Linked DNA regions of Homo sapiens: region 2 is linked to region 1. Evidence: fine-mapped QTL for protein levels in blood plasma. A gene starts in region 1. The other region holds a variant in brackets. All regions are shown on one strand. Distances are between the middles of the regions.

The links. A credible set is the group of variants that fine-mapping cannot tell apart. PIP is the chance, under the fine-mapping model, that this variant and not a neighbour inherited with it causes the effect. Sun 2018 read protein levels with aptamers (SomaScan).
Region 2: its variant is the best candidate, but not a certain one, in a credible set for the plasma level of the SIRPG protein (Sun 2018, PIP 0.52).

The regions. Positions count from the first base shown.
Region 1 is chr20:1,652,764-1,661,102 of GRCh38, reverse strand. SIRPG (signal regulatory protein gamma) reads left to right here and starts at 3,324. Exons shown (of 6, transcript NM_018556.4): 1 at 3,324-3,461. The coding sequence starts at 3,389.
Region 2 is chr20:1,630,892-1,639,230 of GRCh38, reverse strand. SIRPG (signal regulatory protein gamma) reads left to right here. Exons shown (of 6, transcript NM_018556.4): 3 at 2,726-3,043; 4 at 3,632-3,964. SIRPG-AS1 (SIRPG antisense RNA 1) reads right to left here and starts at 5,723. Exons shown (of 3, transcript NR_110090.1): 1 at 5,511-5,723; 2 at 1,881-2,025. RefSeq lists an enhancer at 3,316-4,141. The variant A/G (reference allele first, on the strand shown) is at 4,216.

The DNA.
Region 1 (8,339 bases):
CTATAATGATAATGGTAATACTGAATATATAACTTTTGGAGGACATGGTCAGATAGTATTAAGTAATTTGCATATATTAGTTCATTTAATTCTCATCACAAACTTATGAAGATGGTATGATTATTCTCTCCGTTGTACACTTGGGGAAACTCAGGAAACAGGGAAGTTAATAGTGACCCCAGGATCACACAGCTGGGACCCATTAGAGCTGGATTTCAGACCAGGAAGTTTTGATTCTTAAGCCCACAGTCTTACATCTTTAGTCTTCTGGAGCATCCACTGGCTCCCAGTTTCTCATGTGTCCCAAAGTCGTCCCTGGTTATCTGCACCTGCTGTGATGAGTCAGGGTGAAATATGGCAGATAAAGGAGAATTTTGGCTCATGGACTCCCAGGTTCCTGGTCCTCTCAAACATTCAGATTTTATCTATGCTTCCCCAAGTCACCTAAATTTAAATTTCAATTCTCCACGTGATTTCCACAAAAATTGTAAGCATCTGTGTACTTAGTTGATCTTTACTGAAGGATTGAAGTTCACAGGAAGGCACTTGCTGCTCTAAGCACAGATTCTGCCATCTTCCTGACACTATACTATGCATTTTTGAGTCATATACGCCCAATTCTTATTTTTGGAGACATAATACTTTATGACTCACACCTCTCAAAGTAATGTAGTAATGTGGATAGGTAAAAATAGAGCAATAGGAAAAGATATACCACAATATTGTGGTATATTTTTACCTATCCACATTACTTTGTTTGGGTGTGTCTCTGTGCTGTACCACAGGAAATTTCCCCTACATAATCACCCAGCTTACTAACTTACTATTATACTTATTTATGTATAGTCAGCTAGTCAACCTATTAAGTTTTTTTAAAAAATTTCAGCACTGATTATGTTTTCATTTCCAAAGTCTGTGTTTTGGTATTTTTTCAAGATGGTTGTTGTTACCTCATGCCCGCCTATTTCTGTTTCATATTATTACATGCCTGATGTTGGTTTATGAATTTACTTCTCTTTTGTTTTCCTTATAAGATCATTAAGTATACTAACTTTAAAGAACTTTACACATTTTGTTTTTTCATATTTGCTCAGGTGTGAAGTTCTTTTGATTGCTATTTGTTTTTGAGTTATTGTTTTTCTTGAATTTGTTAGCTGCAGTGCTGTTCCTCAAATCTTTGGTGATTCTTGCTTGCACTTCCGTCTTCCCAGGAATAATTCCCCATGTGATCATGGGTTGTCAGGGCCTCGTGGAGCATGGCACCTGCCCCAGCCTCACTATGAGGGCTGCTCCTAATTGAGGCTATAGCTTCTTCTCTGCTTTCTTCCTGAGGGATGTCTCTCCCTTCCTGCAAGAGGTATCATAGTACAACCATTAAAAGTGAAGGCTGTGGAGTGTGGCAGCCTATGTTCCAGTTCTAAAAGCCGGGTGATCTTGAGCAAATTCATTACTCTCCATGTGCCTCGGGTTTTCTCACCTGTGAAAGGAGGTTAATGGTTGAGCTTACCTCATGGGGTCAGAGCAATGATTTAATGACATTACCAATAGAAAAATGCTTGGCACCATATCTGGAGCACAGGAAACTCTCAATAAATGATAGCTGTTATAATTCCTTCATGTCATATAGAAGCCAATTGCTTGTATTCAAGTGTAATTAGACATTGATTCATATATTCTTTTCATTTTGTGTTTTCACTACTGTGGGTGTGGAGAAGGAGGGGAAGATTTCACCCTGTGTACATCTGCCACATTAAAACAGGACTTTCAATTAAAACATGATAACATTTACAATTTGATTTGACAATTATTCATGACAGATTAAGAACCTAAAACCCACATGTGAGATGAAGGATTCTGGACAGGTCTTTCTTAGTCATAGATGCTGGAAGAGAAATCATTTCTTTTAACAAGGTGGCTTTTCTAAGGCACAACGGTGGCAGAGAACCAGTGGACTCTTCCTGTACACAGAAAATAATTATAGCCATGTTTTTTTGCTTATAATTAATTATGAGTCAAGCATTCAGTATGGCTTATATTATTCCTACCATAGCTCTACAAGGTGCATATTCTAACATTTATTTACATACAATCAAACCAAGGCTCAGAGAAGTAGTGTCTTTTTGAAAATCACACAGCTGGAAATTGTAAGAGGAGGAATTAATCTATGGTTGAACAAGGAGCGGGATTTAGAGAATCCAGAGGGAGAAACTGATTTCAGGGTGGCAGCGAGAGTCCAAATACACTATATAAGCTGGGTCTCAGGAGGCCTGGGTTGCTGGGAGAAAGCCACTGGTGGGCAACTCAGCATGCAGGAGGGATCCATTCAAAAGCAACATTTGAGTTCCCGCACTTCACCTGGCACCGTGAGTATCAATAATGACCTACTGGGTTTCAGGCATGATATGCTCATTACCTCTTTAATCGTCACTAAAACACTGCACAAAAAGACTTACTATTCCCAGTTTAGGAGATTGAAACTGAGCATAGGAGGGCCCAGCGACTTCCCCAACTCCTTGGCACACACTCTTGGCAGGAGCATGGATTTTTCCTCTTTCCTCATTTCCCATCCGAACTCAGTGATGAATGAAATAGGTGCTCTGTGTGTAGAAGAAAGGGTATTGAAATTGATGCGACGGCCCCAGGAACCTGCCCACCATAATCTTCCCTCATGATAACCCTATCCCCTTTCCATAACCCACAATCCCCACCTCACTCCACAAAGCAGTTGCTTATTACCTCAAACCCAGTTTCTCTCCTGGAAGGAGTCAAGAAATAATTCCTTCTGCTGGGTGCAGGCACATGAAAGTGCTAAGGTCCACAAGAGACTGAATTTGGGCTAAGTGTTGCCAATTATAGCAATTTGGAATAGAAAATCATTTCAGGAGAAGATCTGGTTCCTCTCCAGTGTTGAGCAGGTCCTGTGAACTCTTCTCCTACGTCCAGCGGAGTGGCATTTGGTTGAGGCTGGTGCAGAACAAGACCACAAGCCAACCACATCCTAGGGTCTTGAAATAAAGACTTTAGAAAACAATACCTAACAACAGATCTTTCTTGACTTAAAAGCCTCAAATGGCAAATCACCAAGAAGACCTGAAAATGGGTTTGGGGACACGAGGAGGGAGCACAGGTCCCAGGCAGGCAGGAAGCATTATTTCTGCTAACCCTGTCTGATTATCCTGAAAATGGAGCACGATTAACTCCTTGCTTTGTAGCTGCCTACTGTGCCTGATTTGTAAGTCACAATCTAGAAGCAGGTTACTGTTGCATTCCATCATAGCCACTTCCTCTTGAATTGAGGGAGGCAGGGCTTGTCTTCTGTCTTCAGAGCAGGGCCTGACATCTCCCCAGAACAGACGTTTGAACAGAGCAGGCTTCTGAGGTCTCCAAAATGCCTGTCCCAGCCTCCTGGCCCCATCCTCCTGGTCCTTTCCTGCTTCTGACTCTACTGCTGGGACTTACAGGTGAGCATTGCATTGGGCTAGAACCCTTTCTCCCTGCTTCCTGGACCTAGCCTTGCCCCTGGACTTGCAGCAATTTCAGATAAGCACAAGCACTGCCAAGGAAGGTCAAGGACTGGACATTGTCCAAGAGCAGAAGATCAGGGAGCTGAGCACTTTCTCTGTGGATCTGCAGCTGGCTACCAGAGGCATCAAACCTTGTGAGGCTTCTGCCACCATCACAATTAGTTACATTTTTATAATATTTTATTTGACAAACACAGAAGAATCATTATTAAATCCTTACCTGTCTTGAGTCCTCCTACCCATTTTTGTGTGCCCTCCTCCTCTTTAAGAAGTTCCACATTTCATGCTTACAGCGTCCTATATTCCTTTCTTAGGGCTTCCACAACAAAGCACCACAGACTCAGTAACTAAAACAATAGACATTTACTTTCTTTCTTTCAGTTCTGGAGGCTGAATTGCAAAATCAAGATGCCAGCAGGGTTAGTTTCTACTGAGGTCTTTCTCCTTGGCTTGTAGAAGGCCATCTCCTCCATGTGTCTTGACACATGGTCTTCCTCTGTGTGTGTCTGTATTCTCATTTTCTCTTATGAGAACATCAGCCATATTGGATTAAGGCTCCCCGCCAGTGACCTCATTTAACTAAATTGCTTCACCCATTTATGCCTAGTGCTCCGTTATTGGATCACTAAGCTTGCGGGAGTTATTTATATCCTACTGCTCAAGGGCATCGCCAAGGTCTGATTTTTCAAATTAAAAAAAAATTGCAACCTCGGGCATAAATGGGTTAAAGACCTTGTCTCCAAATATGGTCAAATTCTAAGGCGCTGGGGATTGGGGCTTCAACCCATTCGTTTTGGGGGCACATTCAGCCCATAACAGGCACCACCATCTCCCTTGGTCATCTTGACTTTCCTCTGGAGAATTTATTTTCCCTTCCCCCAGGCAGACAGGATTGGGAGGTCTTTCCTGGTGCCACCTGAGAGAGCCCTGTTCACAGCTCCCAGACAGGCTGCCTGTCTTCACCCCTTTTTCAGACCATGCAGCTGACCCCCGGTCACAGGGCTGGGCACAATAGCCTCTCAGTTGCCCACTGGGCCCTGCTGTGATGTCATCTCACAGGTCTTAGAGGGCAAGGTCTCACTTTTCAAATTATTTTTTTTACACATACACTGTACCCAAATGACAGCAGTAATAGTTCAGCAATTGCTCTCTTCCTGTAAGGCAGATGCACTTCTTAGCATTTTGTGTGTATTAAGTCAACTAATCCTCACAGCATCCCTGTGTGGAAGCTATAACTCTTGTGCTCTATTTGCAAATGGGGAGTGAGGCAGAGGCAGGAACCTGTTCATTGTCCCCTACTTCAGTCCATGGAGCAGTTGGGATCAAGTCCAGGTTGACCAGTTCCAGAGTTTATCACCCTTTTAACCATGTTATGCTATGTGTAGAAATATTAGAAAATGCAGGCAAGCAAACATTAGATTAATAATCACCCATCACACCAGTCAGAAACAATCAGAGGTAAAACACTAGTGTATGTATGTTTTCCCAAAATGTTAAAAATGTGTTGGATGGTTTCTATGTGCCAAATATTTTACTGAGATTTTTAAATTTGTCATAATTGTAATTAATGCACAAAACAACCTTATATACTAACATGATAAGCCAAACTTTTATATATATTTGTGAATGTGTATATATACACATTATATACACATATATATGCACATGTGCCTATGCATGTACATGTACATGCACAGATGAGATTTCATTTTTAATCATTGGTTCTCTTTCTATTTTCAGTGAAATTTTTAACAAAATAAATATTTTATTTTATTTTTATTTGACAAAAGTATGTATACTTATGTACAACATATTAAGAAATATGCATACATTGTGGAATGACTAATTTGAACTAATAAACATATGCATTACCTTACATATTTATCATTTTTTATTGTGAGAACTCGTAAACTCTGCTCTCTCAGCAGTTTTCAAGAATACAATTCATATTATTAAGTATAAACACCACATTGTACAATAGATATCTTGAACTTATTTCTCTTATTTAAATTGAAATTTTGTATCCTTTGACTAATATCTCCCCAACTACACCCCCTCTCTAGCCCCCGATAAACACCATTCTACTTTCTACTTCTATGAGCTCAACTTTTTAGATTCTTCATACGTGAAATCATACAGTGTTTGTCTTTCCGTGCCTGGCTTATTTCACTTAGCAGAATGTCCTCCAGGTTCATCCATGTTGTTGCAAATGACAGGGTTTCCCTTTTTGTAAGGCTGATTAGAATTTCATTGTGCATATATGCTACATTTTCTTTCTCCATTTATCTGCTGATAGACACCTAGGTTGATTCCATATCTTGGCTTTTGTAAATAATGCTGCAATGGACATGGGAGTGCAGATATATGTGTGACATGCTGATGTCATTTCCTTTGGATATATGCCAGTAGTGAGATTACCAGATCAGATAAGAGTTATATTTTTAATTTCTTGAGGAACCTGCATACTGTTTTCACTAATGGCTCTACTAATTTATATTCCCACCAACTGTCTGCAAGGGTTCCCTTTTCTCCACATCTTCTCCAATACTAAATTTCCTCTTTTTGATAATAGCCATTCTTAAAGGTGTGAGATGATAGCCCACTGCGGTTTTAATTTGCATTTATCTCATGAATAGTAAGGTTGGATTTTTTTTTATACGCTGACTTGCCATCTTAATGTCTTCTTCTGAGAAATGTCTATTCGGATCTTTGGCCCATATTTTAATAGGGTTGTTTTCTTATGGTTGAGTTGTTTGACTTCCTTATATATTTTGTATACTGACTCCTTATCAGATGTATGGTTTGCAAATGTTTTCTTCCATTCTATAGGTTGTCTCTTCACTCTGTTGATTGTTTCCTTGGCTGGGTAGAAGCTTTTTTAGTTTGTTGTTAATGCCTTTTGTCTATTTTTGCTTTTGTTGCCTGTGCTTTGGGGCTCAAATCCAAAAATGTATTGCCAAGACCAATGTCATGAAACTTTTCTTCTAGTTCTTGTACAGTTTCAGATCTTACATTTAAATCTTTAATCCATTTTGAGTTGATTTTTGTATGAGGCATGAGAAGAAGGCCTAATTTCATTCCCCTACACATGGATATCCAACTTTCCCAGCACCACTTTTTGAAGAGACAGACCTTTCACCATTGTGTTTTCTTCACACTTTTGTCAATAGTCAATTGAGTGTGAATGTGTGAGTTTATTGCTGGGCTCTCTGCTCTGATCCATTGGTCTATATATCTCTTTTTATGCCAGTGCCATGCCATTTTGATTACTTTGACACTGTAGTCAATGTTGAAATTAGGCAGTGTGGTGCTTCCATCTTTGTTCTTTTTTTTTTTTTTTTTAGATGCAGTCTTGCTCTGTCGCCAGTCTGGAGTGCAGTGGTGTGATCTCAGCTCACTGCAATCTCCACCTCCCGGGTTCAAGTGATTCCCCTGCCTCAGCCTCCCAAGTAGCTGGGACTACAGGTGTGCACCACCATGCCTGGCTAATTTTTTGTATTTTCAGTAGAGACAAGGTTTTACCATGTTGGCCAAGACGGTCTCGATTGCCTAACCTCGTGATCTGCTCGCTTCGGCCTCCCAAAGTGCTGGGATTACAGGCATGAGCCACCATGCCCGGCCCCATCTTTGTTCTTTTTGCTCAAGATTGCCTTGATGTAGCATATCACATTTGGAGATTTATGAATGTTATACCATCCTTGCATTCCTGAGATAAATCTCATGTGACCATGCTGAAACACACACAGAATTTTAAAGACTTTCTTTACTGTAAACTTCAACTCATTTTTTCAGTCTATATGAAATGCACATTGAAGAGATGTGTGGTTTTCCCTATTGCCCAGCCACTCTCCCTCCTTCCTACTTCTCTAATCTTACCACTGAAAGTCCTCCAATCTGTTAATAGAAGCAACAGATAAGCAAACTTCTCTCTTGGTAAAATGCATTTTCCCTCAAAGCAGAATTTCTGTGCATTTTTATCCTGAAATTCCCTCTTCCATGAAGGTAGAAATGAGGAAAAAAATGTGGGGATACAGGTGACACAGGTCTGCCTATATTACCTATAACTATAGTTATATTTATATCCATATCCATACCCTTATCCTTATCCTTGTCATCTAATGTCCACTGAAGCCTCCAAGCCTCAGAAATCTACTGAGCAATAACTTTACAATTTTTGAACGTTCACCATGTGGCAGACACTGTTGAAAATGCCTTACCTCTTTTACTTCATGTGATCATTATATACAAGGTAGATATTCTTGTCACCTTTCCTAACAGATAAGAAAACAGAAGCACAAAGTGCTCCAGGCTCACTCATTGGTAACTGGTAGAGCTACGATTTGAACTCAGGCACTCTGACTCTAGAGGTCACAGGTTTCACCATTACTCAAACACTTCCGGTCTTGATTCTATTCCATGAGATTTCTGCAGCTGCTGCTCTTGGGTGTGGAGTGGGCAATGTGGTGTGAAGGGAGATTGTGGTTTTCTTCTCTGGGCTCTTCTACTTTCTGTATGTTTGCAAACTGATTTTTTTTCACTAAGTCCTCTACATGGGAAACTCATTTTCTGTCAAATTCCACAGGAGCAAACCACCTAAAATAGAAGATTTCAGTCTTCGAGGGAAATGTCCCACTGAGCAATTCAAACATTACACACATATCTATTGGATACCTACTATGTGCCAGGATCTGACATAAAAACATGGGGTACTTTGGTAGAATAAAAGAGAAAAAGTAATTGCCCTTTTGTTGCTTACATCCACTGCAGAGAAAGACAGTAATCAATACACATGATAAATAGGTGAATGAAAAAATT
Region 2 (8,339 bases), 22 kb after region 1:
GAATGTAAATTAGTTCAACGATTGTGGAAGACAGTGTGGTGACTCCTTAAGGATCAAGAACCAGAGATACCATTTGACCCAGCAATCCCATTACTGGGTATGTAACCAAAGGAATATAAATCATTCTACTATGAGGACACATGCACATGTATGTTTATTGCAGCACTATTTACAATAGCAAAGACATGAAACCAACCCAAATGCCCATCAGTGATAGACTGGACAAAGAAAAGGTGGTACATATACACCATGGAATACTATGCAGCCATAAAAAAGAATGAGTTCATGTCCTTTGCGGGGCCATGGATGAAGCTGGAAGCCATTATCCTCAGCAAACTAACACAGGGACAGAAAAGCAAACACCACATGTTCTCACTCATAAGTGGGAGTTGCACAATGTGAACACATGGACGCAGGGAGGGGAACAACACACACCAGGGCCAGTCAAGGGGTGGGGGGGTGAGGGGAAGGAGAGCATTAGGACAAATAGCTAATGCATGCAGGGCTTAAAATCTAGATGATGGGTTGATAAGTGCAGCAAACCACCATGGCAAACATAACCTATAAAACAAACCTGCATATTCTGCACTTGTATCCCAGAACTTAAAGTAAAATAATAATAATAAAAAGATGTCACAGAGGACTCTGTTCCCTCCTCCTTCCAAAATGCTTCCAGCTTTACCTATGATCTTATTTTTTTTTGAAAGCCAGTTGTCCAGACTTGGTGGTTTTGCTTTTATTATCATTTGAGTTTTTCATGAGCTGCAGGGAGCAGGATTTGAGCCTTTTCTTGGTGTTTCTACTCCTCTATGTTCTGCTGCCTAAAGAATAAGTGTGTAGATTCAGAAGTAGTAATGACCAAACCTCTTGATAACAGCCATAGGGCTCATTTATTAAGCACCTGCTGCATACCAGGCTCCGTGCTTGCCTTCATCCTCCCTCACCTTACCAGGGTGGGTTTTTTATCCACTTTTGGCCCTTTGCTAGCTGGGGTCCCCTCAGACCCTGGTCCTATAAGGGACTCACACGAGGACCCCCTCAAGGCAATAAAGGGAGGATTAAAGAGCTGAGAGGTACAGAGGGAGCAGCCAGCATCAGGCTCCCAAGAAGCCCTCAATAAATGGCAACTGGTTACAGCCTCTCAGCCCTCTAGGGATGCCCAATGCTGCTGGTGTCTTGATGACTTGACTTCTTCAAGTGACACCCTTCTTACTGTGCCCATAAAATGTTTGCATGTGGTAGGGAGCAAGTTAATATTTACAAATGCAAGTATGCCTAATATGTGTTTCCTGATGACTGCTATAGGAGGTGCAGGGTAATAATTAGCAATTTGGAGACACGTTTAGGACTCATCTACAGGGAGAAACTACCCTCATTTTTCTGATTCTCCAGTTTGTGTGCTTTCAGGACCCAGGATAGATTTCTGCCTGTTGGGGTGGCCTAGATCTTTGTCTCTTGTAATGAATTAACGATGAAGAAATCACCCACCTTTGGCTTTCTTAGTACTCAGTGATCATTGTTTTTGGACCCAACCTGGCCCAACTGAAGACCTAGATTCCAAGAAACCTTCCCTCTTTTCAAATTTGGGACTTGGCACAGATTAGACCTGCTAACTAAAAAAAATAATGATTGATAGGAAGGCCAAAGGAAATAGCATTTATCTGGGAAATAAAGAGTTGCAATTTGGGAACCCTGAGTCATGGTAGTCCTGAACAGTGTCCCATAGGGCAATGCAGGAAAAGTTTTGTACTGGGGACTTTCACAAAATGTTGTTTTTGAAAACAGTTCATTGCCTGGCAGAAATGCTAAACTGCAAACTCGTATGAATTGGTTACTTAATTAGGACACTCCAGGATGAGAGAAATCAAAATCCCATGTACCTTGACTTCAGTCCATTGTTATCCAGGTCTACAGCAACATCCTGTGGCTTGACCTTTAGCAGGTGTGAGTGCAATGCTCTTACAAACGCTTGACTCCATGTTAAAGCTTTAGCCTTAACTACTTCATTTTCTTTCAAAAACTGTACTGGAATATTTGTGAAAAGAATGAAAAATATGGAATAAATTCATAAATACACAAAGAGAGAGAGCTCTAGGTATATGTCAAGTCTGGATTAAAGACAGATCTGTGTTTATTTTTATGAAGCATCTTCTGACTTTGATCCAAAGCAAAACTTCTTCCATGGCCCCATTTAATCCTTGTTGCACCCCTGGGAAGGGAAAATGCTGCTGTCCCACTTTGCAGATGAGGGGCTGCATGTTCCAGGCCACCCCTCTCATGGGCTGAGCAGCCTGGTTGCAGGTCTCATGGTGGCGCCACTTTGCCATTGTTCCCTACTTTGGCTTCTGTAAACACCCTCTCTGAGGTTGGTGAGCTCTCCTGGGGAAACAGGCTAGCACCAGTTAATACACAGAGGGAGAACAATCAGTAACTTTGTTCCTGTGCCCAGATTGGTGGAAGTCACCCTATGTGGAGAGGAGGACTTTGAACTCAGACCTGGACTTCCCTCTGGGACCTTTCCCTACACTGTCTGACCTGGGGCTGGTCGTCACCTCTTCCAACCTTTGCATCCTGCTCTGTAAAATGAGAATAAGAACACCATCCTCTCCACATTATTAGAAGGATTAAAATTAATGTATCTGAAGGTTCTTAACAGTGTCACACACTCATCGTTAGTGATTGTCATCTCAGTCATGTCTCCTGTTTATCGATGCCCCTTTTGTAGCCAAACCCTCTGCCCCCGTGGTATTGGGCCCTGCGGCGAGGACCACACCTGAGCATACAGTGAGTTTCACCTGTGAGTCCCATGGCTTCTCTCCCAGAGACATCACCCTGAAATGGTTCAAAAATGGGAATGAGCTCTCAGACTTCCAGACCAACGTGGACCCCACAGGACAGAGTGTGGCCTACAGCATCCGCAGCACAGCCAGGGTGGTACTGGACCCCTGGGACGTTCGCTCTCAGGTCATCTGCGAGGTGGCCCATGTCACCTTGCAGGGGGACCCTCTTCGTGGGACTGCCAACTTGTCTGAGGCCATCCGAGGTAGAGGACCCTCACACCCAGCCCAAGCCCACACCTGGCTGTCAAGCCCACTCCCCTCTCCCCAGGCTGTTGCTCCAGAGGTTGAATGGCCTGTAATCTAATCCCTGACTATACTGCCCGCCCGCCATGCACCTAGGTGTGCTGGTCACTTACTATCATTTTATTGGCAGCGGTCAGGGGACCAGCAATCACGTGCCAAGCTCTGCGCTAGAGAGTTTCATTTATCTCACCAAGAACAACTACTATTAGTGAGTACCTACTATGAGCCAAGTCCCTATGTGCTCGGCGATTTCACTGATTTTGCTACAGTTCTTACATTCCAACTGCATGCCAGGGGTTGTGCTTGTAGATTTCACTCATTCTTAGCCTAGTAGGAGCTACCAGTCCTTGAGCACCTACTGTGCACCAGGCACTGTGCTTGGTAATTTCATTCATATGCAAAGAGCGCCCTCAATGTCTTAGCATCTGCTGCCTGCCTAGCACTGTCCTGGTGATGCCCTCACCGTGGTAGTGGGAGTTAAGTTATGGAGCCCTCCCTGTGATCTGTCTGTGCCAGAAGATCAGAGCTTCTACCCTGTGCTGTTTCAGTTCCACCCACCTTGGAGGTTACTCAACAGCCCATGAGGGTGGGGAACCAGGTAAACGTCACCTGCCAGGTGAGGAAGTTCTACCCCCAGAGCCTACAGCTGACCTGGTCGGAGAATGGAAACGTGTGCCAGAGAGAAACAGCCTCGACCCTTACAGAGAACAAGGATGGTACCTACAACTGGACAAGCTGGTTCCTGGTGAACATATCTGACCAAAGGGATGATGTGGTCCTCACCTGCCAGGTGAAGCATGATGGGCAGCTGGCGGTCAGCAAACGCCTTGCCCTAGAGGTCACAGTCCACCAGAAGGACCAGAGCTCAGATGCTACCCCTGGTGAGGTTACTCAAAATTTTTAAATTTTGTCTTTTTCTCTCATTTTAAAAGTAATATCCACACTTGCTGTAAAATAAGCTAGAAGTCTATAAATACAAAGTAAAATTTTAATGTCAGCTCCATCCCCCCAAATCCCACATGCGAAGAGTCATGACTAGTAAGAATTTGATGCACAAGTTAATAGAACTTTTGACATAAATATATGTTTAATTTTTTTTTTTTTTGAGACGGAGTCTGGCTCTGTCGCCCAG[A/G]CTGGAGTGCAGTGGCGCGATCTCTGCTCACCGCAAGCTCCGCCTCCCGGGTTCACGCCATTCTCCTGTCTCAGCCTCCCGAGTAGCTGGGACTACAGGCGCCCGCCACCACGCCCGACTAATTTTTTGTATTTTTAGTAGAGATGGGGTTTCACCGTGTTAGCCAGGATGGTCTCGATCTCCTGACCTCGTGATCCGCCCGCCTCAGCCTCCCAAAGTGCTGGGATTACAGGCGTGAGCCACCGCGCCTGGCGTACATAAATATATATTTAAGGAGCAAAGAGGCAGGCAGGGGGAACCATCTTCTCATAGAGTCCTTTGCCTTCCCTTATTCCTTGAGAGTTGTTGTGCCCGTTTCTCATCAGCCCACCCTTGTGCTCCCTACTTTTTCTAACCTCTGCTTTGTTTCTGTTTCATCCAAACTTTTCCATCCTCATTTATGACCTCATCCCAGTACACCCTGACATCTGCTGTGTATGTTTCAGAAAGACAAATGTAGTTTAAAACTGTACCAGGCCTGGCGGCTCACGCCTGTAATCCCAGCACTTTGGGAGGCCGAGGCGGGCGGATCACGAGGTCAGGAGATCGAGACCATCCTGGTTAACACGGTGAAACCCCATCTCTACTAAAAATACAAAAAAATGAGCCGGGCGTGGTGGCGGGCGCCTGTAGTCCCAGCTACTCGGGAGGCTGAGGCAGGAGAATGGTGTGAACCCAGGAGGCGGAGCTTGCAGTGAGCCGAGATCATGCCACTGCACTCCAGCCTGGGCGACAGAGCGAGACTCTGTCAAAAAAAAAAAAAAAAACTGTACCAGGCCTGCAGGTGACCATGAATGGTCACAGAACGGACCTCTTCTGTGTCCTGATTGTGATATTTGAGCAACAATAATCACAAACCCCTCTGCAAATTTACTAAGTGCAAATTTCCATTCATCCATGATCTCTGTTTTTGCTTCAACCACCCAGTAAGTCTGGAGTTTTAAAGAAGGGGAAACTAGGACTTGGGAAGTCATGGGGGATGTTGTTGAAGACCTCTTGCCTTTAGATCGGGTTATTGGTTCAAACTAATTAAAGTAAATCTGGGTCCCTGAGGACAAGGTCAGTATCAGCCTAAAATGCAAATTTGTGCTAGTTAGAGAAACAGTCCTCTTCTGCTGGGCATTGTCCCATGGACCTGAAGTTGGCCTGTGTTCCACTCCGTATGACCAAAATATGTCTTACTTCCCTCTTGTGTAATACCAGGAGGAGTCTCAACTCCAGGAGACTTTTCAAAGGCCCAGGTTCCTCCCACATACCTTATGGTGGTTAGTCTTATCTGCTGGGTCAGTGCTAGGTCACGGATTTTTCCATGTCCCTGTCTGCTGGAAGAGTAAATATAGGAAATGGAGGGCAAAAAATATCTTCTATAATCAGAGATGTATGGAAGGCGTGTGATCATGTCCACAGCTAACTCAGTCATGCATGTACACGCAGTTCCAAATGGAATCCATAGTTGGGTGATCTTATGACTAAAGACAGCATAACAAAACCAGTATCATTATTACAGTTAATACAATTTCAAATTTTTAATCACTAAATTTCATAAAATTATTAAAACAATTCCCTTATATCATCTAAAATGGAGTATACATTCAAATTTTCCTCAAATTTCTTTTATGACTATCTTTCTGTGCACTAAATTTGGTTTTAATTCATATTTAAATGCTTTGCAGTATTTTTCTTTGAAACACTTGGGCCTCAAGAATTTTTGGGGGTGTTTTAAAAGTATAAATTCAATTTCCTCAGTAGTTTAGGGTTACTCATATTATTCATTTCATATTGGGTGAGTTCCGGTAACTCGTGCCTTTTGAAGAATTTTGTGTCCATTTTATCTAAGTTGTCATATTTTTGTGTGTAGAGTTGTTCATAATATCTCCTTATTATCTTTTTGGTGTCTGAAGGGTTATGGCGATATCCCCTGTTTCAACCTCATATCTAAAATATGCCATTTCTGTTTTCTTCTTCATCAGCCTTGCTATAGTTTTTTTCCATTTTATTGGTCTTTTCAAAGGACCACTTTGTTTCCGTGAGTTTTTAAATTGTTTTTGTGTTTCCAGTTTATTCATTTTTTGCACTCTTCTTTTTATTAATTCCTGTCTCCTGCTTGCTTTGAGTTTATTTTGCTCTACTTTTTCTAGTTTCTTGAAGTGGTGATTTAATTGACTTGAGGCTTTTGCTCTTTTCTATGTCATTCCTTTGCCTCCGTTTATGGCTGGGGCTGGTGTTGGGGGATGGGTCCCAGGTGCCTGGCTGCAGGGCTGTCCCTCAGTCCTGAGGCCCCTAGTCAGTCTCCCTTCTTCCTCTCCCACCTTGGAATTTCTCCTATTCCTGATCCTTGTGATGTTTCTAGGGTTCATAGTTTTACTTCTCAGGGAGGTAAAACTGCACCATCAAGACTGGATTGCATTTGCTTTTCAGTTATTCATCCACCCACTGGCTTGGACCAGGACCAGGGCTGGCATTTTTGGGTGCTTTCGGTTTGCCAGATGTAGCATCTTTGCTCAGGTACTAAGGCTGGAAATGCATTTTAAGTTGTCTAGGCTGGCAGGTAAAATGCAAGATGCCTTGTGGTTACATAAGTGCTGCACCAGTGGCGTGGGAGCCGGGTAAGAGACTGTGCACTAGGGTTAGGTGAGTGTTCTGTTTTGACTCACGGTCATTTTGCAGTTTGGCTTTCTCTCTTCAAGTAATACTGAGAGCCAGGGTTGTGCAGAACTTACTTTGTTTTCATTTTTTATTTGATTTGGGGAGGATATTTTATACAGATAAGTAGCTATGCTGCTGCAATTGTACCCAGCAACTCTTAAGTCAACCGAAGATCTTTGAGTGCTTTGACCCAAATGTCCACTCCCACATCTCAGGGTCCCACAACTTCCCCATCAGGGCCCTACCCCAGCATAGCAACCGTTGAAGCTGAGATTCATCCTCCTCTGTGATTCTGCTACTCTTTTAATGATGTCCAGGGCCCAACCCTCTATTCTTTCTGCCCTCTAGCCACAAGAGATAAGAAAGTGCAGTGCTGCCAAGAAGTCCTCTTGCTTTCACGCTGAACCTTAACTCATAATCAATCACTCGTAGCTTCTCAGCATATTTCCCCAAAAAAAATATGCCCAGTGATAGCCATGGAACAAGTTAGTCCTTATAACTACCATTTCCCAATTTGTTTCAAAAGCCTGATGCCAAGGAATTTCCTGCCTGTGGTTACGCCATCCCAGCTTACTGCCAGTGAAAGTTTTATCAATTGCATCCCAGCCATGGTGCCCAGCCCCACTCACTGCCAGCCCTGAGGTCCTCATTGCGAGCTGATGAGTATTCAGGCTTCAAATTTATATTTTAGAGTAAGCTTTACAGACAACTTACCAAGGTCAGTTTCTCTGTAAGGCAGACTAGAGATGGATACAGGAATGCAGGAAGCATCCTGAAGAGCTGTAGGGTCAGCATGCCTCAGGAAATGGGGAGGCAGGACTGTAGGAGGAGCGAGGTGCTGAGCTACAGTGCAGGTAGAACAAAGACCCAGCTGCTCCTGCGGAGGATCCCAAGGGCTGAGAGCGTCATGTAGTGTTTTTTAATTGAGGAGAGAAGCGTGGCCTTCCTATTTTCAATTCAGCCAATCTTTCTTGTGGGCTGTCCCCTAGAAGGAGGAGTGAACTTGGAATTGGGCAGTGCAGCTTTCCTCAAGGGAGAAGAAGTCCCAGAGAGCCACCCAGCTGAGAACTGCCGGCCTCCAACACCCCAGCAGCCACAGATGCTGAGTTCTCCATTTCTTCCTTAAGGACCCACCAGCACCATTTTATTTATTTAAAATATACTGTAATATCTTTAATGGCCCAAACTGCTCGCGTTAAAAATGTTGATTTTAAAAGCCTGAACTGCTCATGTTAAAAATGCAGCGTCCAAACATGTGCTTCCCCGTAACTGAGTGTGCCCAACTAACAGAAAGATTTCAGATGACACCTGCACTGGGGTGGAGGTGGCCTAGGTGACATCTGAGGCCCTCCCAAGCATGAGACCCATTTCCGTGACTCACCAGGATGTTTTCTAGCCGGAAGGTTTCATTATGTCCAGTGTTCCATGGCTCCTCCAAG